Linked DNA regions of Homo sapiens: all the other regions are linked to region 1. Evidence: fine-mapped expression QTL. A gene starts in region 1. Each other region holds a variant in brackets. All regions are shown on one strand. Distances are from middle to middle. Region 1 holds the start of VKORC1 (vitamin K epoxide reductase complex subunit 1). Region 2 overlaps ITGAX (integrin subunit alpha X). Region 3 overlaps FBXL19 (F-box and leucine rich repeat protein 19).

Region 1 (10,896 bases):
AAATGCTAGAAGAAAATATGGTCAAAATCTTTTATAACTCTTGGAGTGAGGAAGGCAATCTCGGCTCACTACAACTTCCACCTCCCGGGTTCAAATGATTCTCCTGCCTCAGCCTCCTGAGTAGCTGGGATTACAGGCACCCACCACCATGCCCGGCTAATTTTTGTATTTTTAGTAGAGACGAGGTTTCGCCATGTTGGCCAAGCTTGTCTTAAACTCCTGACCTCAGGTGATCCACCCACCTCAGCCTCCCAAATTGCTGGGATTACAGGCATGAGCCACCATGCCCCGCCTAATTTTAAAAATGTTTATAAAGACAGAGTCTTACCACGTTGTCCAGACCTGTCTCAAACTCCTGGGCTCAAGTCATTGTCTTGTCTCAGCCTCCCAAAGTTCTGGGACTACAGGTGTGCACCACCACACCTGGCTAATTTTGTTTATTTTTTATAGAGTGAGGGTCTCCCTGTGTTGTCCAGGGTGTCTCAAACTCCTGGGCTCAAGTGGTCCTCCTGCCTCAGCCTCCCAAAGTGCTGGGATTATAGGCATAAGCCACTGCACCTGGCCCCAGTGTGTGTCTTCTGAGGCTAAGTCATAAAGAGATTGCGGCTTCTATTTTGCTTCCTCTTAGATCACTCATTCTGGGGGAAACCAACAATAAATAACAGGAACACACCAGGAGATCAGAGAAAGCTGAGATACAGGCCTAATGCCCAGTCCTCTGTATTCATTTCTAATTGCTGCTGTAACAAGTTACTGCACATTTAATGATGTAAAACAACACAAATTTATCTTACAGTTCTGTAGCTTAGAAGTCTGACAGAGTCTCACTGGGCTGAAATCAAGATGTTGATAGTTCCTTCCCGGTGACTCTAGAGTGAGAATCCAGTTCTTTACCCTTTCTTGCCTTTAGAGGCCACCCGTATTTATTAGCTCACAATCCCCTTCCTCCATCTTCAAACCAGAAACATTGCAGCTCTCTGTGTCTTTTTTCTTTACTCACATCTCCCTCTGACTTTCTTCTGCCATCCTCCTTCATTTTTTAAGGACCCCTGTGGGCCAGGCATGGTGGCTTATGCCTGTAATCCCAGCACTTTGAGAGGCGGAGGCAGGCGGGTCACCTGAGGTCAGGAGTTCCAGACCAGCCTGGCCAACATGGCAAAACCCCATCTCCACTGAAAATACAAAAATTGGGCCAGGCACGGCGGCTCACACCCGTAATCCCCATACTTTGAGAGGCTGAGGCAGGTGGATCACTTGAGGTCAGGAGTTCAAGACCAGCCTGGCCAACATGGTGAAATCCCGTCTCTACTAAAAAAAAAAAAAATTACAATAATTAGTCAGGCGTGGTGGCCAGCACCTATAATCCCAGCTACTTGGGAGGTTGAGGCACAAGAATTGCTTGAACCCGAGAGGGGGAGGTTGCAGTGAGCTGAGATTGCACCACCGTACTCCAGCCTGGATGACAGAGCAAGACTCTGTCTCAAAATAAAAATTAAGATAAATAATAAAAAATAAATAAAAATCAGCAAATTAGGCCAGGTGTGGTGGTGGCTCATGCCTGTACTCCCAGCACTTTGAGGTGGGAAGGTTGCTTGAAACCAGAAGTTTAGACCAGCCTGGGAAACAAAGTGAGACCCCATCTCTACAAAAATAAAAATAAATTAGCCAGGTGTGGTGGGACGTACTTGTACTCCTAGCTACTAGGGAGGCTGAGGTGCAAGAATCGCTTGAACCTGGGAGACGGAGGTTGCAGTGAGTTATGACAGTGCCACTACACTCCAGCCTGGGTGTCAAGGGTCTTTGAAAAAATAAACAAAATAGGCTGGGCGTGGTGGCTTACACTTGTAATCCCAGCACTTTGGGAGGCTGAGGCAGGCAGATCACAAAGTCAGGAGTTCGAGACCAGCCTGGCCAACACAGTGAAACCCCGTCTCTACTAAAAATACAAAAATTAGCCAGGCATGGTTGCACGCGCCTGTAGTCCCAACTGCTCGGGAGGCTGAGGCAGGAGAATGGCTTGAACCTGGGGGGGGGCGGAAGTTATAATGAGCCAAGATTGTGCCACTGCACTCCAGCCTAGGCAACAGAGCGAGACTCCGTCTCAAAAATAAAAATAAAAATAAATCAATAGAGCCTGGTATGATGGCTCACGCCTATAATCCCAGCACTTTGGGAGGCCCAGGTGGGTGGATCATCTGAGGTCAGGAGTTTGAGACCAGCCTGACCAACATGGAGAAACCCCATCTCTACTAAAAATACAAAAAATTAGCCAGGCGTGGTGGCACATGCCTATAATCCCAGCTACTCAGGAGCCTGAGGCAGGAGAATCGCTTTAACCGGGGAGGTGGAGGTTGCGGTGAGTCGAGATAGCACCATTGCATTCTAGCCTGGGCAACAAGAGCAAAACTCCATCTCAAAAATAAATAAATAAATAGATAGATAGGCTGGGCACGGTGGCTCACGCCTGTAATCCCAGCACTTTGGGAGGCCGAGGTGGGCGGATCACCTGAGGTCAGGAGTTCAAGACCAGCCTGGCCAATATAGCGAAACCCTGTCTCTACTAAAAATTTAAAAAATTAGCCAGGCATGATGGCGGGTGCCTGTAATCCCAGCTACTCGGGAGGCTGAGGCAGGAGAATCTCTCGAACCTGGCAGGCGGAGGTTGCAGTGAGCCGAGATCACACCATTGCACTCCAGTTGGGCAACAAGAGCGAAACTCCACCTCAAAAACAAAATAAAATAAAATAAAATCAGGAGATTGGTCAGCTTAATTCCATCTGCAACCTTAATTCCCTTTTGGCCATTTAACCTATCATATTCACAAGTTCCAGGGATTCATGCAGGGACATCTTTGGTGACCATTATTCTGTCTACCACACTCTCTAGAAGAGAGTAGATGTGAGAAACAGCATCTGGAGAGGGAGGAGCCAGCAGGAGAGGGAAATATCACAGACGCCAGAGGAAGAGAGTTCCCAGAAGGGTAGGTGCAACAGTAAGGGATCCCTCTGGGAAGTCAAGCAAGAGAAGACCTGAAAAACAACCATTGGCCGGGTGCGGTGGCTCACGCCTATAATCCTAGCATTTTGGGAGGCCGAGGTGGGTGGATCACTTGAGGTCAGGAGTTTAAGACAAGCCTGGCCAACATGGTGAAACCCTGTCTCTACTAAAAATACAAAAATTAGCCAGACATGGTGGCAGGCACCTGTAGTCCAAACTACTTGGGAGGCTGAGGCACGAGAACCACTTGAACCCTGGAGGCGGAAGTTGCAGTGAGCCGAGATGGCACCGCTGCACTCCAGCCTGGGCGACAGAGTGAGACTCCGTCTCAAAATAAGTAAATAAATAAATAAATAACCATTGGGTCTAGCGTCTTGGTGACACCAGCCACTAGGTGTCAGGGCAATGCTGGAGGCAGCAGCTAGTTTATGGCGTGGGCAGCAAGGAAGAAGTGAGGAAGTAGAGACTGGGAGTGTAGAATCTTTCCAAAAACTTGAATGTGGAGGGGTAGATGGGATAATGCCGGGAGAGGAGGCTGGTGAAGGACCTCTTAGTGAAGGGAGATTTGTTGCTGTTTCTGAGATGGGAAAGAGAAACAAGTTGCAGTGTAGATGGGGAGGATGGAGAGGTTGAAGGTGTAGGAGAGATGGGTCACCATCAGATGGGACGTCTGTGAAGGAGAGACCTCATCTGGCCCACAGCTTGGAAAGGAGAGACTGACTGTTGAGTTGATGCAAGCTCAGGTGTTGCCAGGCGGGCGCCATGATAGTAGAGAGGTTAGGATACTGTCAAGGGTGTGTGTGGCCAAAGGAGTGGTTCTGTGAATGTATGGGAGAAAGGGAGACCGACCACCAGGAAGCACTGGTGAGGCAGGACCCGGGAGGATGGGAGGCTGCAGCCCGAATGGTGCCTGAAATAGTTTCAGGGGAAATGCTTGGTTCCCGAATCGGATCGCCGTATTCGCTGGATCCCCTGATCCGCTGGTCTCTAGGTCCCGGATGCTGCAATTCTTACAACAGGACTTGGCATAGGGTAAGCGCAAATGCTGTTAACCACACTAACACACTTTTTTTTTTCTTTTTTTTTTTTGAGACAGAGTCTCACTCTGTCGGCCTGGCTGGAGTGCAGTGGCACGATCTCGGCTCACTGCAACCTCCGGCTCCCCGGCTCAAGCAATTCTCCTGCCTCAGCCTCCCGAGTAGCTGGGATTACAGGCATGTGCCACCACGCCCGGCTAATTTTTGTATTTTTAGTTGAGATGGGGTTTCACCATGTTGGCGAGGCTGGTCTTGAACTCCTGACCTCAGGTAATCCGCCAGCCTCGGCCTCCCAAAGTGCTGGGATTACAAGCGTGAGCCACCGTGCCCGGCCAACAGTTTTTAAATCTGTGGAGACTTCATTTCCCTTGATGCCTTGCAGCCGCGCCGACTACAACTCCCATCATGCCTGGCAGCCGCTGGGGCCGCGATTCCGCACGTCCCTTACCCGCTTCACTAGTCCCGGCATTCTTCGCTGTTTTCCTAACTCGCCCGCTTGACTAGCGCCCTGGAACAGCCATTTGGGTCGTGGAGTGCGAGCACGGCCGGCCAATCGCCGAGTCAGAGGGCCAGGAGGGGCGCGGCCATTCGCCGCCCGGCCCCTGCTCCGTGGCTGGTTTTCTCCGCGGGCGCCTCGGGCGGAACCTGGAGATAATGGGCAGCACCTGGGGGAGCCCTGGCTGGGTGCGGCTCGCTCTTTGCCTGACGGGCTTAGTGCTCTCGCTCTACGCGCTGCACGTGAAGGCGGCGCGCGCCCGGGACCGGGATTACCGCGCGCTCTGCGACGTGGGCACCGCCATCAGCTGTTCGCGCGTCTTCTCCTCCAGGTGTGCACGGGAGTGGGAGGCGTGGGGCCTCGGAGCAGGGCGGCCAGGATGCCAGATGATTATTCTGGAGTCTGGGATCGGTGTGCCCGGGGAACGGACACGGGGCTGGACTGCTCGCGGGGTCGTTGCACAGGGGCTGAGCTACCCAGCGATACTGGTGTTCGAAATAAGAGTGCGAGGCAAGGGACCAGACAGTGCTGGGGACTGGGATTATTCCGGGGACTCGCACGTGAATTGGATGCCAAGGAATAACGGTGACCAGGAAAGGCGGGGAGGCAGGATGGCGGTAGAGATTGACGATGGTCTCAAGGACGGCGCGCAGGTGAAGGGGGGTGTTGGCGATGGCTGCGCCCAGGAACAAGGTGGCCCGGTCTGGCTGTGCGTGATGGCCAGGCGTTAGCATAATGACGGAATACAGAGGAGGCGAGTGAGTGGCCAGGGAGCTGGAGATTCTGGGGTCCAGGGCAAAGATAATCTGCCCCCGACTCCCAGTCTCTGATGCAAAACCGAGTGAACCGTTATACCAGCCTTGCCATTTTAAGAATTACTTAAGGGCCGGGCGCGGTGGCCCACTCCTGTAATCCCAGCACTTTGGGAGGCCGAGGCGGATGGATCACTTGAAGTCAGGAGTTGACCAGCCTGGCCAACATGGTGAAAGCCTGTCTCTACCAAAAATAGAAAAATTAATCGGGCGCTATGGCGGGTGCCTTAATCCCAGCTACTCGGGGGGGCTAAGGCAGGAGAATCGCTTGAACCCGGGAGGCGGAGGTTTCAGTGAGCCGAGATCGCGCCACTGCACTCCAGCCTGGGCCAGAGTGAGACTCCGTCTCAAAAAAAAAAAAAAAAAAAAAAAAAAAGAGACTTACTTAAGGTCTAAGATGAAAAGCAGGGCCTACGGAGTAGCCACGTCCGGGCCTGGTCTGGGGAGAGGGGAGGATAGGGTCAGTGACATGGAATCCTGACGTGGCCAAAGGTGCCCGGTGCCAGGAGATCATCGACCCTTGGACTAGGATGGGAGGTCGGGGAACAGAGGATAGCCCAGGTGGCTTCTTGGAAATCACCTTTCTCGGGCAGGGTCCAAGGCACTGGGTTGACAGTCCTAACCTGGTTCCACCCCACCCCACCCCTCTGCCAGGTGGGGCAGGGGTTTCGGGCTGGTGGAGCATGTGCTGGGACAGGACAGCATCCTCAATCAATCCAACAGCATATTCGGTTGCATCTTCTACACACTACAGCTATTGTTAGGTGAGTGGCTCCGCCCCCTCCCTGCCCGCCCCGCCCCGCCCCTCATCCCCCTTGGTCAGCTCAGCCCCACTCCATGCAATCTTGGTGATCCACACAGCTGACAGCCAGCTAGCTGCTCATCACGGAGCGTCCTGCGGGTGGGGATGTGGGGAGGTAACTAACAGGAGTCTTTTAATTGGTTTAAGTACTGTTAGAGGCTGAAGGGCCCTTAAAGACATCCTAGGTCCCCAGGTTTTTTGTTTGTTGTTGTTTTGAGACAGGGTCTGGCTCTGTTGCCCAAAGTGAGGTCTAGGATGCCCTTAGTGTGCACTGGCGTGATCTCAGTTCATGGCAACCTCTGCCTCCCTGCCCAAGGGATCCTCCCACCTTAGCCTCCCAAGCAGCTGGAATCACAGGCGTGCACCACTATGCCCAGCTAATTTTTGTTTTTGTTTTTTTTTGGTAGAGATGGTGTCTCGCCATGTTGCCCAGGCTGGTCTCAAGCAATCTGTCTGCCTCAGCCTCCCAAAGTGCTGGGGGGATTACAGGCGTGAGCTACCATGCCCCACCAACACCCCAGTTTTGTGGAAAAGATGCCGAAATTCCTTTTTAAGGAGAAGCTGAGCATGAGCTATCTTTTGTCTCATTTAGTGCTCAGCAGGAAAATTTGTATCTAGTCCCATAAGAACAGAGAGAGGAACCAAGGGAGTGGAAGACGATGGCGCCCCAGGCCTTGCTGATGCCATATGCCGGAGATGAGACTATCCATTACCACCCTTCCCAGCAGGCTCCCACGCTCCCTTTGAGTCACCCTTCCCAGCTCCAGAGAAGGCATCACTGAGGGAGGCCCAGCACCATGGTCCTGGCTGACACATGGTTCAGACTTGGCCGATTTATTTAAGAAATTTTATTGCTCAGAACTTTCCCTCCCTGGGCAATGGCAAGAGCTTCAGAGACCAGTCCCTTGGAGGGGACCTGTTGAAGCCTTCTTTTTTTTTTTTTTTAAGAAATAATCTTGCTCTGTTGCCCAGGCTGGAGTGCAGTGGCACAATCATAGCTCACTGTAACCTGGCTCAAGCGATCCTCCTGAGTAGCTAGGACTATAGGCATGTCACTGCACCCAGCTAATTTTTTTTTTTTTTTTTTTTTTTTTTTTGCGACATAGTCTCGCTCTGTCACCAGGCTGGAGTGCAGTGGCACGATCTTGGCTCACTGCAACCTCTGCCTCCCGGGTTCAAGCAATTTTCCTGCCTCAGCCTCCTGAGTAGCTGGGACTACAGGCGCGTGTCACCACGCCCAGCTAATTTTTGTATTTTTAGTGGAGACAGGGTTTCACCATGTTGGCTAGGATGGTCTCAATCTCTTGACCTGGTGATCCATCCGCCTTGGCCTCCCAAAGTGCTAGGATTACAGGCGTGAGTCAACCTCACCGGGCATTTTTTTTTTGAGACGAAGTCTTGCTCTTGCTGCCCAAGCTGGAATGTGGTGGCATGATCTCGGCTCACTGCAACCTCCACCTCCTAGGTTCAAGCGATTCTCCACCTTAGCCTCCCCAGCAGCTGGGATTACAGGTGCCCATCAACACACCCGGCTAATTTTTGTATTTTTATTAGAGATGGGGTTTTGCCATGTTGGCCAGGCTGCTCTCGAACTCCTAACCTCAGGTGATCCACCCCCATTGGCCTCCCAAAATACTGGGATTACAGGCATGAGCCACCGTGCCCAGCTGAATTTCTAAATTTTTGATAGAGATCGGGTCTTTCTATGTTGCCCAAGCTGGTCTTGAACTCCTAGCCTAAAGCAGTCTTCCCACCTCGGCCTCCCAGAGTGTTTGGAATACGTGCGTAAGCCACCACATCTGCCCTGGAGCCTCTTGTTTTAGAGACCCTTCCCAGCAGCTCCTGGCATCTAGGTAGTGCAGTGACATCATGGAGTGTTCGGGAGGTGGCCAGTGCCTGAAGCCCACACCGGACCCTCTTCTGCCTTGCAGGTTGCCTGCGGACACGCTGGGCCTCTGTCCTGATGCTGCTGAGCTCCCTGGTGTCTCTCGCTGGTTCTGTCTACCTGGCCTGGATCCTGTTCTTCGTGCTCTATGATTTCTGCATTGTTTGTATCACCACCTATGCTATCAACGTGAGCCTGATGTGGCTCAGTTTCCGGAAGGTCCAAGAACCCCAGGGCAAGGCTAAGAGGCACTGAGCCCTCAACCCAAGCCAGGCTGACCTCATCTGCTTTGCTTTGGCATGTGAGCCTTGCCTAAGGGGGCATATCTGGGTCCCTAGAAGGCCCTAGATGTGGGGCTTCTAGATTACCCCCTCCTCCTGCCATACCCGCACATGACAATGGACCAAATGTGCCACACGCTCGCTCTTTTTTACACCCAGTGCCTCTGACTCTGTCCCCATGGGCTGGTCTCCAAAGCTCTTTCCATTGCCCAGGGAGGGAAGGTTCTGAGCAATAAAGTTTCTTAGATCAATCAGCCAAGTCTGAACCATGTGTCTGCCATGGACTGTGGTGCTGGGCCTCCCTCGGTGTTGCCTTCTCTGGAGCTGGGAAGGGTGAGTCAGAGGGAGAGTGGAGGGCCTGCTGGGAAGGGTGGTTATGGGTAGTCTCATCTCCAGTGTGTGGAGTCAGCAAGGCCTGGGGCACCATTGGCCCCCACCCCCAGGAAACAGGCTGGCAGCTCGCTCCTGCTGCCCACAGGAGCCAGGCCTCCTCTCCTGGGAAGGCTGAGCACACACCTGGAAGGGCAGGCTGCCCTTCTGGTTCTGTAAATGCTTGCTGGGAAGTTCTTCCTTGAGTTTAACTTTAACCCCTCCAGTTGCCTTATCGACCATTCCAAGCCAGTATTGGTAGCCTTGGAGGGTCAGGGCCAGGTTGTGAAGGTTTTTGTTTTGCCTATTATGCCCTGACCACTTACCTACATGCCAAGCACTGTTTAAGAACTTGTGTTGGCAGGGTGCAGTGGCTCACACCTGTAATCCCTGTACTTTGGGAGGCCAAGGCAGGAGGATCACTTGAGGCCAGGAGTTCCAGACCAGCCTGGGCAAAATAGTGAGACCCCTGTCTCTACAAAAAAAAAAAAAAAAAAAAATTAGCCAGGCATGGTGGTGTATGTACCTATAGTCCCAACTAATCGGGAAGCTGGCGGGAAGACTGCTTGAGCCCAGAAGGTTGAGGCTGCAGTGAGCCATGATCACTGCACTCCAGCCTGAGCAACAGAGCAAGACCGTCTCCAAAAAAAAACAAAAAACAAAAAAAAACTTGTGTTAACGTGTTAAACTCGTTTAATCTTTACAGTGATTTATGAGGTGGGTACTATTATTATCCCTATCTTGATGATAGGGACAGAGTGGCTAATTAGTATGCCTGAGATCACACAGCTACTGCAGGAGGCTCTCAGGATTTGAATCCACCTGGTCCATCTGGCTCCAGCATCTATATGCTTTTTTTTTTGTTGGTTTGTTTTTGAGACGGACTTTCGCTCTTGTTGTCCAGGCTGGAGTGCAATGGCACAATTTCGGCTCACCACAACCTCCACCTCCCAGGTTCAAGTGATTCTCCTGCCTCAGCCTCCCGAGTAGCTGGGATTACAGGCATGCGCCACCAGGCCTGGCTAATTTTGTATTTTTAGTAGAGACAGTGTTTCTCTATGTTGGTCAGGCTGGTCTCGCACTCCCGACCTCAGGTGATCTGCCTGCTTTGGCCTCCCAAAGTGCTGGGATTACAGGCGTGAGCCACCATGCCCGGCCAGCATCTATAATATATGCTAAACCTTACCCACAGCTGCCTCTGTCTTGGGGTCAGGGTTCTTGAATGGTCTGGGCCAGCCTGAGTTAGGAGTGGGAAGAGGAAGAGGAGGCACGCGCCAAAGTGTTCTTCCCGCCTGACCGAGTCCTCTGCGCCTATGAGGAAGGTGGGCACCGCTGTCACCCTGTTTCCCAGGAAGCCAGCAGGCCCAGGGAGATACTGGGATTTGCCAAAGGCTCACAGCGAGCAAGCAGCAGTGGGTGCTGGCTCCTCACCACTCAGCCTGGCACACACTGTCTCTGAGCAGACCTGGGAGAAGGCATGTGAAACCCACCTAGCCCTGGCTGGAAGAGAAGTGGGGGAGTGGAAATGAAAAGTGGGGACTGGGAGGAGCTGCCCACGTGCCCTCCATGGTTCCAGGATGGCACTTTCATGCTGGGAGTGAGCTTGCCCTGTGCCAGGCTGTCATTGAGACGTTTTCCATTCAACAACTGTTTCTCAGACAAGGCACAGGCAGGTTAGCTCTCCCAGGCCACTCAAGTAGTAAGGAAACAGATTTAAACCCAGACAATTTGGCTCCACGGCTAAGGCCCAGAGAGGGGTGGTGACAAGCCTAGGGTCACACAGCCACAGCCCCAGAGCTAGGAACTGCTGGCTAGGGCAAGCAGACAGCTGAATCCTAGCCAACTGGAGGTGGAGCAGAGGTGGAGCCAGGGAGACCCAGGTGGCCTCTCTCAGAGTGGAGCACAGGTGGCAGAGTGGCCCGGGGCAGCATGAAGTGGTGCTGGGGCCCAGTGCTGCTCATCGCGGGTGCCACAGTCCTCATGGAGGGTAAGCCGCCATGTGCTGGGGTATGGGTGTGGCCTGGTGGGGGCTCAGGGGCCATCTCTGCCCCAGCAGTCCCTGCTTCTTGGTGGGGGGACCGCCTGTGGGCGACAGTCCACCAGTGGGGATGTAACTCCGTAGGACTCTGTGGGGTGGTATATGTGGCCACCTGTGTCAACATGGATGAGATTTTCTCGGGCCAGCTGCAGTTTGCGTTGGCGGGGCCTGTGGTCTTG
Region 2 (10,896 bases), 280 kb before region 1:
TCTCTACTAAAAATACAAAAATTAGCCAGGCATGATGGTGTGCACCTGTAATCCCAGCTACTCAGGAGGCTGAGACAGGAGAATTGTTTGAGCCCAGGGGACAGAGGTTGCAGTGAGCCCAGATCACGCCACTGAATGACAGAGCAAGACTCTCTCTCTCTCAAAAAAAAACAGAGAGAGAGAGTTTAGAGACCAGGCACAGTGCTCACGCCTATAATCCCAGCACTTTGACAGGCTGAGACAGGCAGATCACCTGAGGTCGGGAGTTCAAGACCAGCCTGGCCAACATGGAGAAACACCATCTCTACTAAAAATACAAAAATTAGCCAGGTGTGGTGGCAGGTGCCTGTAATCCCAGCTACTTGGGAGGCTGAGGCACGAGAATTGCTTGGAGCCAGGAGGCGGAGGTTGCAGTGAGCAGAGATGGTACAACTGCACTCCAGCCTGGGCAACACAGTGAGACTTGGTCTCAAAAAAAAAAAAAAAGAGAGAGAGTCTAGAAAAGCAGGGCTGGGCTTCAAACAAGTGCTAATTGGCTGAGTGCAGTGGCTCACACCTGCAATCCCAGCACTTTGGGAGGTTGAGGTGGGAGGATCACTTGAGGCCAGGATTCAAGATCAGCCTGGGCAACATAGCAAGACCCCATCTCTCCAAAACAATTTTTTAAATTAGCCAGGCATGGTGGCACACATCTGTAGTCTCAACTACTTGGGAGGCTGAGGTGGGAGGCTCGCTTGAGCCCAAGAGGAGTTCAAGGCTGCTGTGAGCTGTGATCACACCACTGCACTCCAGCCTGGGCAACAGAGCAAGACCTGGGCTTTAAAAAAAAAAAAATGAGGCAAAGAGCTCATAGCTGCCTGCAGAGGAGGCTGCCAGTGGGGCCGGGTAGTCGGTACAATGAACGGAGCAGAGAGCTCTGCCACTGACTGCAGGAGAGCAGGGGCCATGGCCTGCCCCTCCGCTTTCCTTCCATCCCTTTGTGGGGATGTAGGATGCCAGGGCTCTGTGGGACACAGCACAGAGTTGGGGTGGCCCAGGCTGACGCTGTTGACCAAATGCTACTGAGCATTGCCCCTTCCCAGTCCCCCACATACCTCCCCGGGGGCCCTTTTTTCCCATTTCCTTGGCTTTTCCGGGCCTGGGGCTTGGAGGGGAGGGAGGGCCCACAGCAGACTCTTCATGAGGTCTCAGTTTAACACCTCCTGAGCCCTTTTTGGGCACAAGCCTGGAGACCTGGTGGGCAGCTGGGACCATCACACAGGTGGCCAGTCTCACCACTGCCTCACTGCTTCACTCTTCCGGCACCTGTCCTCCAGCTGGCATAGTCCAAACACCAGCCCACCACGCCTACTCTGAAGCCTCATTCCTCCTCTGCCAATTTTTTGTAGAGCTAGGGTCTCACTATATTGCCCAGGCTGATCCTGAACTCCTGGCCTCAAGCAATCCTCCCACCTTGGCCTCCCCCAGAAATGCCCCAACCTGGCACTCCCTGTGCCCTAACCCACAGAGTCACACCTGCCATGTGTGGCCAAGCTGTGGATCACACCTGCCATGTGTGGCCAAGCTGTGGACCACACATGCCTAGAGTAGGTGAGCCCTGCCTGTGGGTCCCCTGCCAAGGGGTATGAGAGCCTGGGGCACACCCCAGCACACGAGCTCAGAGCGTGCACCTGGCTGGGAGCCTCCACGCATGCAGGTGCAGGTGAGAGTGGGAAACACCAGGCACAGGAGAACATCCAGCAAGGCACACCCCACAAGGGCGAGGGTTCATGTCTGGTTTTGATCACACATAATGGGGGCTCAGTAAATCTTCAATGAATGTCAAATGAATGTATGGAAAATAACCACAGCACCCTGCCTGGCACACAGCAAATTCGAGGAAGGCATTGGCTGAAGGAAGGTGTCTGCTGAAACACCTGACCTTTTAGTTTCAAACACCTTATCTCACCCTCTGTGGCAGCGTTTCAAGGCCTTTTTTTTTTTTTCTTTTTGAGGTCAGAGAGAAGAACCCTTTTTCCTGCAGTGGGGTACCTGCTGACCTGCTAACCACAGTGTAGACAGCATACTTCACCGGGAGCTCCAGCTGGAAGGTGGTCTTGCTGGTCCTGGGAGTGTTGTTCTCACTGGAGAAAGAGGAGAGACTCAGTTGCCAGAGGCCCCAGAGGAGGAGAATGGGGTGTGAGGCTGGAGATGAGGGGCACTGCCCCTGGCCTGGCCCGGCTCACCTGCTCACATTGGCTGTCAGAAGCAGCCGGTCTCCCAGGACAGCCTTGGGGGAGACGTCAAAGGTAGCCAAGAAGGTGATCTGAGGAAAAGGAACTGAGAGGTCACAGAGCAGTAAAGACAGGGTGGGGCAGGGGAGCAGTGAGGGGACAGAAGCCAGGCTGACCTGGGCGCCGCCACGGAAGATGAGGTGGTTGATTCTGCAGCTGGTGCTCCAGGTGCCCTGGCTCCCAACTGGGGCGCTGTCACATGTCAGGTGCAGGGAACGCAGCTGCCCTTGTTTCTAGGCATGAGAAAAAGTAGAGGAGTATTAGTTGAAATTGAAAGCAATGGCAAAAACCCAATTACTTTTGCACCAACCTAATATAACAGCATTCCAAAGACACGCCACGAAGTAGTGATAAAGCTTCCTGGAGCCCACCTTAAGCTTATGTTTTTGTTTGTTTGTTTGTTTTTTGAGACCAGGTCTCACTCTGTCACCCAGGCTAGAAAGCAGTGATGCAATCACAGCTCACTGCAGCCTCAAACTCTGGCCTCAAGCCATCCTCTTGCCTCAGCCTCCTGAGTAGCTAGGACTACAGGCACACACCACCACCATGCCTGGCTAATTTTAAAAAAATTTTTTTATAAATGGGACCTCGCTATATTGCCCAGGCTGGTCTTGAACTCCTGGCCTCAAGCAATCCTCCCATCTTGTCCCCCCAAAACACTAGGATTACAGGTATGAGCCACCATGTCCAGCCAAGGTTACGTTTTTAAAAGCTCCCCCATAGCTATCTGGTCAAACTTTCTTCCAAAGTAGAAATCTCAAATGTATTAAAATGTTCACCTTTTTATTGTTATTTTAAAGGCCTCTTATAATGGAAAATTTAAAACACATTAAAAAATAGAGAGACTGGAAAATCAACCCCATATAACCATCACTCATTTTAAGTAACCAACATTTTTCTACTCTTGTTTCTGCTATGTTCTCTTTCTGAACACTTTAAAGCACATTCCAAACACCATATTGTTTCATCTAGAAATACTTCAGTGTATACCACCAATAGATAAGGGTATTTTAAATGTAACCACAAGAACCAACAAATCACAGCCAACAAAATTAACAATTACTCCTTAATATACCAATATACTGGTCATGTTCTATTTTCTTAGATTGTCTCCAAAAATGTTATTTTACAGCTCATTTGTTAAAATCAATATTCAGCAAAGGTCCACCCATTACATTTGGTTGATATGTCTAGGAGCACTTTCATTGACAGTGATCACCCCTCACATGCAAGAGATGGCCTTTCCTGCTGTGTTCTTTTATACGTTAATCAAAATGCGCTTCCGCTGGGAATATTAGACTAAGAGAGACAGCAGAAATAACAACCAACCATCATGTATGGACCTAGTTCGAATTTTCGTTCAAATAGACCAGAAGTAAAAAGATATTTTTGAGACAGTTACACAATTTTGACTATGATCTTAATACCAAGGAATCACTTATTTCATTGGGTGTGATAATGGTGTTGAGGTCATATAAGAGGTCCTCATTGTTCAGAACTATAGAGTGTGTCTTTGTCTGTTCCCTGCTGCTATAACAGATTACCGCAAACTAGGTAATGTATCAATAGAAGCTTTGTGGTTCTGGAGGCTGGGAAGTCCAAGAACATGGCACCAGCATCTGGTGAGGGCCTTTGTGCTGCATGTGCAAGGCAGTGCATGTGAGAGTGAGAGGGAAAGGGGGCCAAACTCATCCTTTAATTAGAAACCCACTCCTGGGCTAGGCTCCGTGGCTTACGCCTGTAATCCTAGTACTTTGGGAGGCCGAATCGGGTGGATCATTTGAGGTCAGGAGTTCAAGACCAGACTGCCCAACATGGTGAAACCCCATCTCTACTAAAAATGCAAAACTTAGCTGGGCGTGGCAGTGGGCACCTGTAATCCCAGCTACTCAGGAGGCTGAGGCACAAGAATTGCTTGAATTCGGGAGGCAGAGGCTGCAGTGAGCCAAGATCGTGCCACTGCACCCTAGCCTGGGCAACAGAGCAAGACCCTCTCAAGGAAAGAAAGAAAGAAGGAAAAGAAAGAAAGAAAAAGAAAGAAGAAAGGAAGGAAGGAAACCCACTCCTGAAATAACTAATCTACTCTTGAGATAATAGTATTCATCCATTCATGAGGGCAAAGCCCTCATAACCTAATCACCTTTAAAAGGTTTCACCTTTCAACACTGTTGCATTGGGGATTAAGTGTCCAACACACGAACATTGGGTGATGCATTCAAACCATAGCAGAGTGAATAAGGAGGAGTACAATGACCCCCATGTCTGAGATTTGTTTTAAAATACTTTAGCAGGTCAGGCACAGTGGCTCATGTCTGTAACTCCAACACTTTGGGAAGCTAAGATAGGAGGACTGCTTGAACCCAGGGGTTAGAGACCAGTTTGGGCAGCATGGTAAGACCCCAACTCTACAAAAAAAATTAAAAAATTAGCCAGGTGTGGTGGTGTGTGCATGTGGTTCTAGCTACTCAGGAGGCTGAGATGGGAGGATCGCTTGAGCCCAGGAGGTCAAGGCTACAGTAAGCTGAAATTGTGCCACTGCACTCCAGCCTGTGTGACAGAGCAAAACCCTGTCTCAAAAATAAAGAAATAAAGAAAATACCTTAGCAAAGGGGAAAAATTGATGAAACAAATGTGGCAAAATGCTGCTAATTGTTGAATCTAGGTGACAAGTTTTGGGGAGGTTTGTTGAACTACTTTCTACTTTTGTAAATGTTTTAAATTTTTCATAATAACTTTTTTTTTTTAGACAGAGTCTTGCTCTGTTGTGCAGGCTGGAGTGCAGTGGCACAATCTCAGCTCACTGCAACCTCCGTCTTCCGGGTTCAAGCAGTTCTCTCACCTCGGCCTCCCCAGTAGCTGGGATCACAGGCACCTGCCACCACACCCAGCTAATTTTTGTATTTTTCGTAGAGATGGGGTTTCACCATGTTGGCCAGGCTGGTCTCAAACTCCTGACCTCCGGTGATCCGCCTGCCTCAACCTCCCGAAGTCCTGGGATTACAGGCGTGAGCCACCACTCCCAGCCATAATAACATCTTTGTTTAAAAAATCTGGTTCTCTTTGACTCCCCGTGGTCCTAGTTCTGCATTTTAAAGCAGGGATTGGCAACCAACAGCCACTACCTATTTTTATAAAGTTTTACTGCATCGCAGGTATATTCACTCATAAACTCATTCATGTCAATGGCTGCTTTCATTCCACAACACCAGAGGTTAGCAGCTGTGACACAGACCACGCAGACCACGAAGCTGAAATATTTACTATCTAGCCCTTTATAGAAAAAGGTCGCCAAGCCTTAATGTAGAGTGACCAATAAATTCAACCCCTTGCTTCTACAGAACAGTGTTTTAAAATATTTGAAGGCTGAGGTATGTTTTCATTTAAAAGAGGAATACTGATATAATATGGAATAGAAAGAAATTTGGGCAGGTTCCCCTCTGTCTCCACATTAGTGGCCTCTCAGGAAATCATTCCTGATAGTCAGTGTCCTTAAACTGCGATGCCCAAAGTTGAACACCCACACGAGCAGAGGCGTGCCCCAGATGGCACTACCACCTCCAAGCCCAGCCCGGGTTCTGAACCGCACGGGAATCTACGCTAACGCCCAGCCCTGCCTCCTCCTCCTTCCCCAGAGGGTGCACCTGGCCCTCTGCCACGTAGCGGTAGGACAGTCCTGCGGGGTGGGAGAAGGTGATGGTGGTTCCGTAGGAGTCTTCCCCGTCATTCCACACCATCACTTCTGCGTTCAGCTCCAGGTTACTCCCCACCAGCAGGGACTTCAAGCTGGGTATCAGGTGA[A/G]GGAAAGGAGAAGATGATTCTGTGACTGAGGCTAGAAATGGTCTGGGATAAAATGGGGTGGGTGGGGATTTGGGAGATAGACAGGGGACGGACCCCTGGGTTCTTCTTCTTCTTCTTCTTCTTCTTCTTCTTTTTTTTTAAGAGACAGAGTCCTGCTCTTTCACCCAGGCTGGAGTGCAGTGGTGTGATTATGGCTCACTGCAGCCTCCAACTCCAGAGCTCAAGCAATCCTTAAGCTTCAGCCTCCCAAGTAGCTGGGACTATAGGCATGCTCTACCACACTCAAGTGATGTTGTTGTTGTTGTTGTTGTTGTTGTTTTGTTTTTGTGGAAATGGGATCTCGCTCTGTTGCCCAGGCTGATCCCTAACTCCTGGCCTCAAAAGATCCTCCCACCTCGGCCTCCCAAAGTGCTGGGATTACAGGCGTGAGCCACTGTGCCCAGCCAAGACACCTGGGTTTTGACTATAGGATGAGACAATGTTAGGGAGAGCCAGAGGCAGGAGTCCCAGATTCCAGGAAGGAGGCTGGGGCAGTAGGGCAGGTCTAAGGTGGGGGCGCTCACCCTGGGAAGCTGAAGGAGATGCCGAGATTGTCCTGGCAGATATGGTCGGCTCCACAGTTCTTCTCAAAGGGTAGCTGCGTGGGAAGGCAACGGGGGGTTTTCTCCGAGACCCAGGCCCCACGCTGTGCACCCTCTCTGGGAGACCCAGTGCCAGGACTCACGGAGGCCGTGAAGTATCTCTGAGCATCGGCGGCCAGCATAGGCCGCAGGTTTCTGAAGGCAAGGAGGGGCTTGCCCACCAGCGTGAAGTTCAGACGCAAGGTAATGGGGGTCACAGAGTCCTCCACGCAGCTCTGGGGGACGGGCGTCGCGGGGAGCGGAGGGTAAGGGGAGGGTAAGAGCTGCGCTCGGCCTCATCCGCAGTTCTTATCCTGCCTCTGCCCAGCTCCCGCGCGGCTTCAGCTTCCTCCAGAGCCTGCTCAGCGTCACCGCCTTCAGGAGGCCTCCCTGACACCCTCTCTGTTCTCTCCCCTTGTTTGTCTTTGTTTTTTTCCTCCCCCCCCCCAGACCTCCCGATCAGCAATGACTGTTTTGGCCACCTATGCCCCTGGCCCCCAGGGCAAGGCCTGTCTCCCAGGAGCAGCTCGATAAACCCCTGTCCAGTGAATGCCTGAAAAAAAGCCCAGCCGGAAGCCCCAGAGCTCTCTCAGGTTGCCCAATTCTCTTTCCTGAAATCCAATCGTGTGGCCCCTGGAAATTGCAGCCGATCTCATCACTTGTTTGCTCGCTCACTCACTCACTGGCTAACGTGCAGTAAGCACGTCCTGCATGGCTGGTCCTGTGCTGGGCTGAGCCACAGGGAGGCCGGAACACAGCCTGTTCTCTCCCTGCCCTGCCTTCTGCCAGCCCCAGCGCGGCCGCCACCCACGTTCATGCCCAGACGCACCGGGAGCAGCAGGTTGAAGTTTTCACAGTGTGCCTTCAGCCCGAGGACTCGGACTCGGCTCAGACTCCGGTTCTTTGTTTCCTGGAAGGTGGCACGGGGACTCAGGCGGCCAGGGTCGAGGGCCAGGTCCAAGGTCACAGAGCTTTGGAGGTCACCTGTAGGCGGTCGCAGGGACGGCGTTGAGACAGGAACTCCTTGGGTGGACAATGAGCAGGGTGGGAGACAGGGGCCTGGGATGGGGGACTCCAGAGGTCAGGGTGTCCTGGGTTGGAGGGGAGGGGACTCACGGCTCCCAAGCAGGTTCTTAGAACGTTTGTCAATGTAAAGGCAGATGTTGGACTGTACCAGGGTCTGCTCAGAGACCACCTGCTCCCGACACTCAAACGCAGACCTGGGGATCTCGGCAGGTATGAACTGCATGCTCACCCCCACCCAGAGCACAGGTCTGGTCCTGCGGGCAGAGCACCGAGCTGAGGACAGGCCGTCGGCTCCTGGGAGCACCACGTGGGGTGGGCACCCCCATCTGAACCTAGGACCACCTGGGGAGCCTCTGAGAAAGGCTGCTCTCACCTGAGCAGGAGCACCTGGCCCCGGGCCCCCACAGCCAGGTCCACCAGTCCATCCTGGGTGAGGTCTTGACCCCCGCTCAGTGCCTGCCCAAAATACTGCAGCCTGGAGGAGAGCTGGGAGCCCGCGATCCGCTGGCCAGAGGAGAGAAGGGTGAATCAAGATGGAAAGTAGGGGAAGAAGTTGGAAATAAGTAACAAGGGGAATATGGAGGTAGGACCATCGGAAAGGGAGAGAAGGGGTGAGTTGTGAACAGATGTCACCAAGAAGAACCTGAAAAGAGGAGGTAGGAGTTGGGAGATGATTGCTAAGAAACAGATGTAAGAGTGGAGATAGGAAGGGTGTCCTGGTGACCCGAGTGTCATTCATTCGATCAGTCTCTAGTTCCAATTCTGACTCCTCCACGTATGAGCCACGAGGCCGTGGGCAAGGACTCAATCTGTCTGTGCCTCCGTTTCCTCATCTTTCATATAATGATACTATTAGCTCAGAGTTTAGCCATGCTCAGGAGAGGAATTCCTACGGTTCTTAGAACAGCACCCAGGATACAGCCAGCAGTCAATAATATATCACAATGAGTATTAAGGCTGAAAGGGACCTCAGAGTTTGTCCAACCTCACCTCCCTCGTTGCAAAGATGCAGGAGAGAGGTTGGGGACAGTGTCAACCCCAGGTAGCCTTTAAGAGGCTGACTGCAGACCTAACACCAGACCGTCCAACCCCAGGCCCAAGTCCCCTTTTTGTTTCTTGCTGTCACTCTGTCTCTTCAAAGGACAAGAAAAAGCCGCGGTGGGGTAGGGAGTGGTCGCACCCACACCCAGATCCACCCTCCCAGGCACTGCCTCCCCTGTAGAACCTATCACCTTCATTCCCAGTGCTCATGTTATGCCCAATCCCTGGAAGAATGTGCCCTTTAAATCTCTGTGCACCCTGGAACTAGCAGCCATTAAAAGTGATAATAATGGCTGGACGCGGTGGCTCACACCTGTAATCCCAACACTTTGGGAGGCCGAGGCGGGTGGGTCATCTGAGGTCAGGAGTTCCAGACCAGCCTGGCCAACATGGTGAAACCCCGTTTCTACTAAATAAACAAAAATTAGCTGGGCATGATGGCACATACCTGCAATCCAAGCTGCTCAGGAGGCTGAGGCAGGAGAATCACTTGAACCCGGGAGGCAGAGGTTGCAGTGAGCGGAGATTGCACCACTGTGCTCCAGTCTGGGTGACAGAGCGAGACTCTGTCTCAAAAAAAAAGGTAATAATAATGGGCAGGGCACACTGGCTTTGTGCCTGTGGTCCCAGCTACTCAGGAGTCTTTGGCAGGAGGATCTCTTCAGTCCAGGAGTTCGAGGCTGCAGTCAGCTATGATTGCGCCACTGAACTCCAGCCTGAGTGACATGATGAGATTCTGTCTCTAAAAAATAAAAATTAAAAAAAAGAAAAGAAAAAAAGGAATAATAACAAAATAAAAAGAGAAATTTACCAATTACTGAGGGAGTCTAGAAAGGCTAGGTGTACCCCCTCTAAATCTAAAAGTTCAAAAATAAAAATAAAATATTTGATTGGTAAAAAATGCTAACAATCGTTTAAGCCTTTAGCAAGGCATAATCTTTTTGCTGGTGGAGGGTCTTGCCTGATGGTGACACGGCTGACTGATCACAGTGGCAACTGCTGGAGGTTGGGGTGGCTATGGCAATTTCCTAAAATAAGACCGTGAGGAAGTTTGCTGCCTGGATGGACTCTTCCTTTCATGAAATTTCTCTGGAGCATGCGATGCTGGTTGATAACATTTGGCCACAGTAGAGCTTCTTTGAAAGTTGGAGTCGTCCGGGAGGTGAGGGGCGCCTCTGCCCGGCCGCCCCTACTGGGAAGTGAGGAGACCCTCTGCCCGGCCAGCTGCCCCGTCCGGGAGGGAGGTGGGGGGGGGGGTCAGCCCCCCGCCCGGCCAGCTGCCTCGTCCAGGAGGGAGGTGGGGGGGTCAGCCCCCCGCCCGGCCAGCCGCCCCGTCCGGGAGGTGAGGGGCACCTCTGCCCGGCCGCCCCTACTGGGAAGTGAGGAGCCCCTCTGCCCGGCCACCACCCCGTCTGGGAGGTGTACCCAACAGCTCATTGAGAACGGGCCATGATGACAATGGCGGTTTTGTGGAATCGAAAGGGGGGAAAGGTGGGGAAAAGATTGAGAAATCGGATGGTTGCCGTGTCTGTGTAGAAAGAAGTAGACATGGGAGATTTTTCATTTTGTTCTGTACTAAGAAAAATTCTTCTGCCTTGGGATCCTCTTGATCTGTGACCTTACCCCCAACCCTGTGCTCTCTGAAACATGTGCTGTGTCCACTCAGGGTTAAATGGATTAAGGGCGGTGCAAGATGTGCTTTGTTAAACAGATGCTTGAAGGCAGCATGCTCGTTAAGAGTCATCACCACTCCCTAATCTCAAGTACCCAGGGACACAAACACTGCGGAAGGCCGCAGGGTCCTCTGCCTGGGAAAACCAGAGACCTTTGTTCACTTGTTTATCTGCTGACCTTCCCTCCACTATTGTCCTATGACCCTGCGAAATCCCCCTCTGCGAGAAACACCCAAGAATGATCAATAAAAAAAATAAAAAATAAAAAAATAAATAAAAAATAAAAAATAAAAAAAGAAAGTTGGAGTCAATTCTCTCAAATTCTATGCTGATTTATCAACTACGTTTATATAATATTCTTTTTTTTTTTTTTTTTGAGACACACTTTCACTCTGTCGCCCAGGCTAGAGTGCAGTGGTGTGATCTCGGCTCACTGCAACCTTTGCCTGAGGGGTTCAAGCGATT
Region 3 (5,000 bases), 160 kb after region 1:
GATTTATCTTTGAATCATCTCCTCTTTGCACTTAAAACCAGTATTGTTGCCGGGCGCGGTGGCTCATGCGTGTAATCCCAGCACTTTGGGAGGCCGAGGTGGGTGGATCACTAGGTCAGGAGATCAAGACCATCCAGGCTAACACAGTGAAACCCCGTCTCTACTAAAAAAAAAATACAAAAAATTAGCTGGGCGTGGTGGAGGGCGCCTGTAGTCCCAGATACTCGGGAGGCTGAGGCAGGAGAATGGCGTGAATCTGGGAGGTGGAGCTTGCAGTGAGCCGAGATCGTGCCACTGCACTCCAGCCTGGGCGACAGAGCGAGACTCCGTCTCAAAAAAAAAACAAAAAAAAAAACCCCAGTATTGTTTCACATAAATATGTTAATCTTAAAAATAAACACAAAAGTCCAAGTGTGGTGTAATCCCAGCACTTTGGGAGGCCAAGGTGGACAGATCACGAGGTCAGGAGATTGAGACCATCCTGGCTAACACGGTGAAACCCCATCTCTACTAAAAATACAAAAAATTAGCCGGGCGTGGTGGCGGGCACCTGTAGTCCCAGCTACTTGGGAGGCTAAGGCAGGAGAATGGCATGAACCTGGGAGGCGGAGCTTGCAGTAAGCCGAGATTGCGCCACTGCACTCCAGCCTGGGTGACAGAGCGAGACTCTGTCTCAAAAATAAATAAATAAATAAATAAAACACAAAAAAGACCAGAGTTATTAAATCCTAGCCAGGTGTTGCTGTGGCTTTAGGCTACTACCTGAAGACTACTTTTGTTAAACAGGGAGATAAGTATCAGAGAAGTGTTAGAAAAAGCACCCAATAGTGGCCAGGCGCAGTGGCTCACGCCTGTAATCCCAGCACTTTGGGAGGCCGAGGCAGGCGGATCACGAGATCAGGAGATGGAGACCATCCTGGCTAATACGGTGAAACCTCGTATCTGCTAAAAATACAAAAGATTAGCCGGGCGTGGTGGCAGGCGCCTGTAGTCCCAGCTACTCAGGAGGCTGAGGCAGGAGAATGGCGTGAACCCAGGAGGCGGAGCTGGCAGTGAGCCGAGACTGCACCACTGCACTCCAGCCTGGGCGACAGAGCAAGACTCCATCTCAAAAAAGAAAAAAAGCACCCGATGGAGAGACTTCCTTCCAATGGAAAGACTTCCTTTCCAAAACTCACAGAGGGATTAAGCCATATTTTTGTGTCACTGAAAAATGCCAGACCTACTCCAGAGGCCCAGTGTGTCATTTCATTATTTTTTTCAGACAAAGTCTCACTGTCGCCCAGGCTAGAGCTCAGTGATGCAATCATAGCTCACTGCAGCCTCAAACTCCTGGGCTCAAGTGATCCCCTTGCCTCAGCCTCCCATGTGGCTGGGACCACAGGTATGCTTAGCTAATTTTTTCTTTTTTAATAGAGATGGGGGTCTCACTATGTTGCCCAAGCTTGTCTTGAACCCCTGGGCTCAAGCAATTCTCCTGCCTCAGCCTCCCAAAGTGCTGGGATTACAGGCGTGAGCCACTGGGCCCAGCCCTGGTGTGACGTTTTAGAGAAGGCTGAGGGCACAGACACCAAGGCTTCAGTCCGAACACCTTCACCCCTCTGCCACTCGCTCTCCTGTTCCCTCCTACCCTCATCCTGCTTTTCTGGCATTCTAGCCTCTCCCTCTCCTGATTCCTTCCTCTCAACTAATAAACATCTGCAAATCTCTCCAATTCAAAACATGAAAAGGAAAAAAACCAACTCATGCCCGACCCAGCTTCTACCCCTAGGTCCTGCCCCTTTGCTCTTTCTGTGAGCAAGAAAATCGGTGACATCTGCTCTATCCAAAACCTCTCTCTGCCCACTGTGACCCTGCCACGACTGCCTCCCAGCTTAACTGTCACCACTTCCTTGAAGCCACTTCCCTTCCACGGTCCACAGCTGGAAGGAAGCCCCTTTCCCTGGGGGCACCCACAGGACCCCAGTTGTGTTTCTGTATCATACTCCACAACAGCCAGGCCACACACCTGCCCACCTATAGACACAGTGCTGTCTGATGCCAACACGTTGTGGCACATGCTGTGCCTCTGCCAGAAATGCCAACCCAGAGCCTTCGTGGCTCGGCTCCAGTGCCTCCTCTTCCAGGAAGTCTCCCACACCTTCCTTGGCTACAGCTCATCAGTCCCCCTGCTCTTGTACAACCAGGACACTGGGGTTAAACCTCAGAGGGACAACCAACAGTCACTGAGGGCCCTACTGATCCCAAGTATCTGGCTTCCACTGGGCACGGAGGAGGCAAAGATGACAGGTTCCTGCCATACAGTCAGGGAGACATGGACAGTCCGCAGTAACTGAGGTGACAAGGGGCATGGTAAGAGTCACCTCAAGGACTGGGTGGGGGAGCCTCCTGGGGGGACAATGCCTGACCTGAGACTCCGAGGAAAGCAGTAGTTATTTCAGCAAGGGGAGGGGGAGGAGGGTGTGTGTTCCAGATGGGCAAGAACCTGTGTCCAGGCCCACAAGAGACAAGACGGAGAGCTCTGGAAACCCCAGGCCACAGGAACTCATCATCATAACCAGAGTCACGCTGATCACAGTGACTTCAGCACTACTAACCAGCCATCATCCAGGGTTCACTGTGTGCCAGGCACTGTCCCATGCATTAAGCACTGAACCTCACGCCAGCCCTAGGAGGTCAACATTACCATCATCATCTCCTTTCTACAGTAAAGAAAATGAGGCAAGCGTGTGCGGTGGCTCACGCCTGTTAATCCCAGCACTTTGGGAGGCCAAGGAGGGCGGATCACGAGGTCAGGA[G/AGGAG]TTCAAGACCAGCCTGGCCAACATAGTGAAACCTCGTCTCTACTAAAAATACAAAAATTAGCTGGGTGTGGTGGCACGCGCCTGCAGTCCCAGCTACTCAGGAGGCTGAGGCAGGAGAATCACTTGAACCCAGGAGGCAGAGGTTGCAGTGAGCCGAGACCACAGCATTCCACTCCAGCCTGGGTAACAGAGTCAGACTCTGCCTCAAAAAAAAAAAAAAAGGTCGGGCGCGCTGGCTCACGCCTGTAATCCCAGCACTTTGGGAGGCTGAGGCAGGTGGATCATGAGGTCAGGAGGTCGAGACCATCCTGGCTAACATGGTGAAACCCCGTCTCTACTAAAAAACAAAAAAAAAAAAAAAAAAAGAAAAAAAATTAGCCAGGCGTGGTGGCAGGCACCTGTAGTCCCAGTTACTCAGGAGGCTGAGGCAGGAGAATGGCGTGAATCCGGGAGGCGGAGCTTGCAGTGAGCCGAGATTGTCGCCAGCCTGGGTGACAGAGTGAGACTCCGTCTCAAAAAAAAAAAAAAAAATGAGGCCCAGAAAGGTTGAGAAATGTATTCAAGGTCCCACAACTACCAAGTGGTAGGTAGTAGAGGCGGGGTTCCACCTAGCCCGTCTGGGTGGAAAGCCTGAATTCTGAGGAGAGAAGAGGCAAGAGTGGAGCTGCAAAGGAGGGATGGGTGTCATGTCAAGGAGGGCTGGAATGCCAGGCCATAGACTATCATGGTCACAGAGCCCAGAGCTGAGGATGTGAGCTATGGGGATCTAAATCCCAGCTCTGCCACCTCCAGGCTTTGGGGGGCCTCAGGCAAGTCACTCGCCCTGTGTGGGCTTCCATTTCCCAAACTGTACAGTGGGGTGAAGAACAGCGCTTCCTTCAGAGGTTGCTGTGACAAGGAAGGGACACAGCTCAGGGAAGTGGTTGGTGCAGTCGGTAGGCCCAGTTCATGTCCATATGTCCAACAGGACTGCGATGGTGGGCGTCTGTTGTGAGGGCGACAGGGAGCCACAGGTGGGTTCTTTCTAAGCTGGAGAATGACACTGAGACAAGAGGCAGGGAAAGCTCTAAGAGCCAAGGTGTGCCGTCGTCCCAGAGACATGTGGCTTGATGCCAAAGTCCCCTAACCCATTCACTTCCTCCTGGACTCCAGCCACCCCGCAATGAGTCCTCTCCTACTAGGCCGACCTGCAAACCCTCAATTCCAATCCTAACCCTCCCTCTTGCAGAAGCCCCCGGGAACAGGGAGCTGGACCAGCCCTTACTGCCCTCTGAAGGCTCACGGCCCCTAGGGCTCCAAGCACTGCCAGTTCCGACCTCTTGTAGCTCTCTGGGCCCCGATGCTACCACTGCCCTCCAATCTGTCCACCTCCAGACCCTACCCGACCATGATCACCTTGTATTCCAGTCCCTTCCTTGCTGCCTTCTCTCTGTCCATGTCCTCAAAAGCCCCAACCCTCTTCCTTGCATCTCAATAACCCCTGCACGCCTTCCCTGCTGCCCTCTCTCCACTCTTCACTCTTCACTCTTAAGGGATCACTTCCCTTTCAGTTCCAAGAAAAGATGGAAGCCACCAGACAGGAAAGCCTGCAGCCTCCTGCTGTCCCCTACACACGCCTCTCCAGCGCCACCCTCTGTACATCCTTCCACACTGCATCCTGCTCTCTTGTCCTTCACTCATTCAGCGAAGATGATCTCACTGCCCACTGTCCGCCAGGTGCCATTAGACACCAGGAACACAACAGGAACAAACGAATCAAGTCCCTGCCTGGAAGCTGATGTTCTCGACTCCATTCAATCTGGCTTTGGACCCCCAACCCCCAGAGCACAGCTGAGGACACTAAGGCCTCCTGGTAGCAAAATCCAACCACCACTTCCTGGTCCTTGATCTCCCACGGCCTCTCACCAGCATCCTCCTTGGCTTACCACATTCCCTCCTGCCTCGTTCTCTACTCGGGGGCACACCTCTGGCCATGAGCTCCTCCAATTATCTGGCTAGGCTCTTGCTCTAACTCACAAGTACTGATGTATGATCTTTTGCCCTCTTCATCAAAGCTGCTTGGCTTGCTACCTACAGGCTGAGAACTCCCAAACGTGTATCTTTCTCCTGAGCATCAGACCCACACGTCCTGAGCACACCACACACGTCAGTCATCTGAGCTCTTTACCTTCCTGGAAACTGCTCCTCCTGAGCCTGGGGAAT

The links. PIP is the estimated chance that this variant, and not a neighbour inherited with it, causes the effect.
Region 2: its variant is the best candidate, but not a certain one, in a credible set for the expression of VKORC1 in cerebral cortex (GTEx, PIP 0.63).
Region 3: its variant is the best candidate, but not a certain one, in a credible set for the expression of VKORC1 in whole blood (TOPMed, PIP 0.51).

Annotation. Positions count from the first base shown.
Region 1 is chr16:31,088,522-31,099,417 of GRCh38, reverse strand. VKORC1 (vitamin K epoxide reductase complex subunit 1) reads left to right here and starts at 4,621. Exons shown (of 3, transcript NM_024006.6): 1 at 4,621-4,861; 2 at 5,997-6,106; 3 at 8,076-8,564. The coding sequence starts at 4,689. The coding sequence ends at 8,284. LOC124903680 (zinc finger protein ENSP00000375192-like) reads left to right here and starts at 3,413. Exons shown (of 1, transcript XM_047435012.1): 1 at 3,413-4,534. The coding sequence starts at 4,040. The coding sequence ends at 4,534. It overlaps PRSS53 (serine protease 53), which reads left to right and starts at 10,475. Exons shown (of 11, transcript NM_001039503.3): 1 at 10,475-10,666. The coding sequence starts at 10,609. RefSeq lists enhancers at 3,453-3,632, 4,148-4,197, 4,248-4,297, 4,328-4,507, 5,688-6,396 and 1 more.
Region 2 is chr16:31,368,409-31,379,304 of GRCh38, reverse strand. It overlaps ITGAX (integrin subunit alpha X), which reads right to left. Exons shown (of 30, transcript NM_000887.5): 15 at 8,091-8,221; 16 at 7,808-7,971; 17 at 7,521-7,675; 18 at 6,796-6,927; 19 at 6,635-6,708; 20 at 5,915-6,056; 21 at 2,390-2,506; 22 at 2,226-2,305; 23 at 2,040-2,123. Among named protein-coding and RNA genes, the nearest start is that of ITGAX, 19 kb to the right of the region's middle. RefSeq lists an enhancer at 10,140-10,746. The variant A/G (reference allele first, on the strand shown) is at 6,072.
Region 3 is chr16:30,934,765-30,939,764 of GRCh38, reverse strand. The region is part of intron 7 of FBXL19 (F-box and leucine rich repeat protein 19); the gene reads right to left. Among named protein-coding and RNA genes, the nearest start is that of ORAI3, 12 kb to the left of the region's middle. RefSeq lists an enhancer at 4,343-4,637. The variant G/AGGAG (reference allele first, on the strand shown) is at 2,799.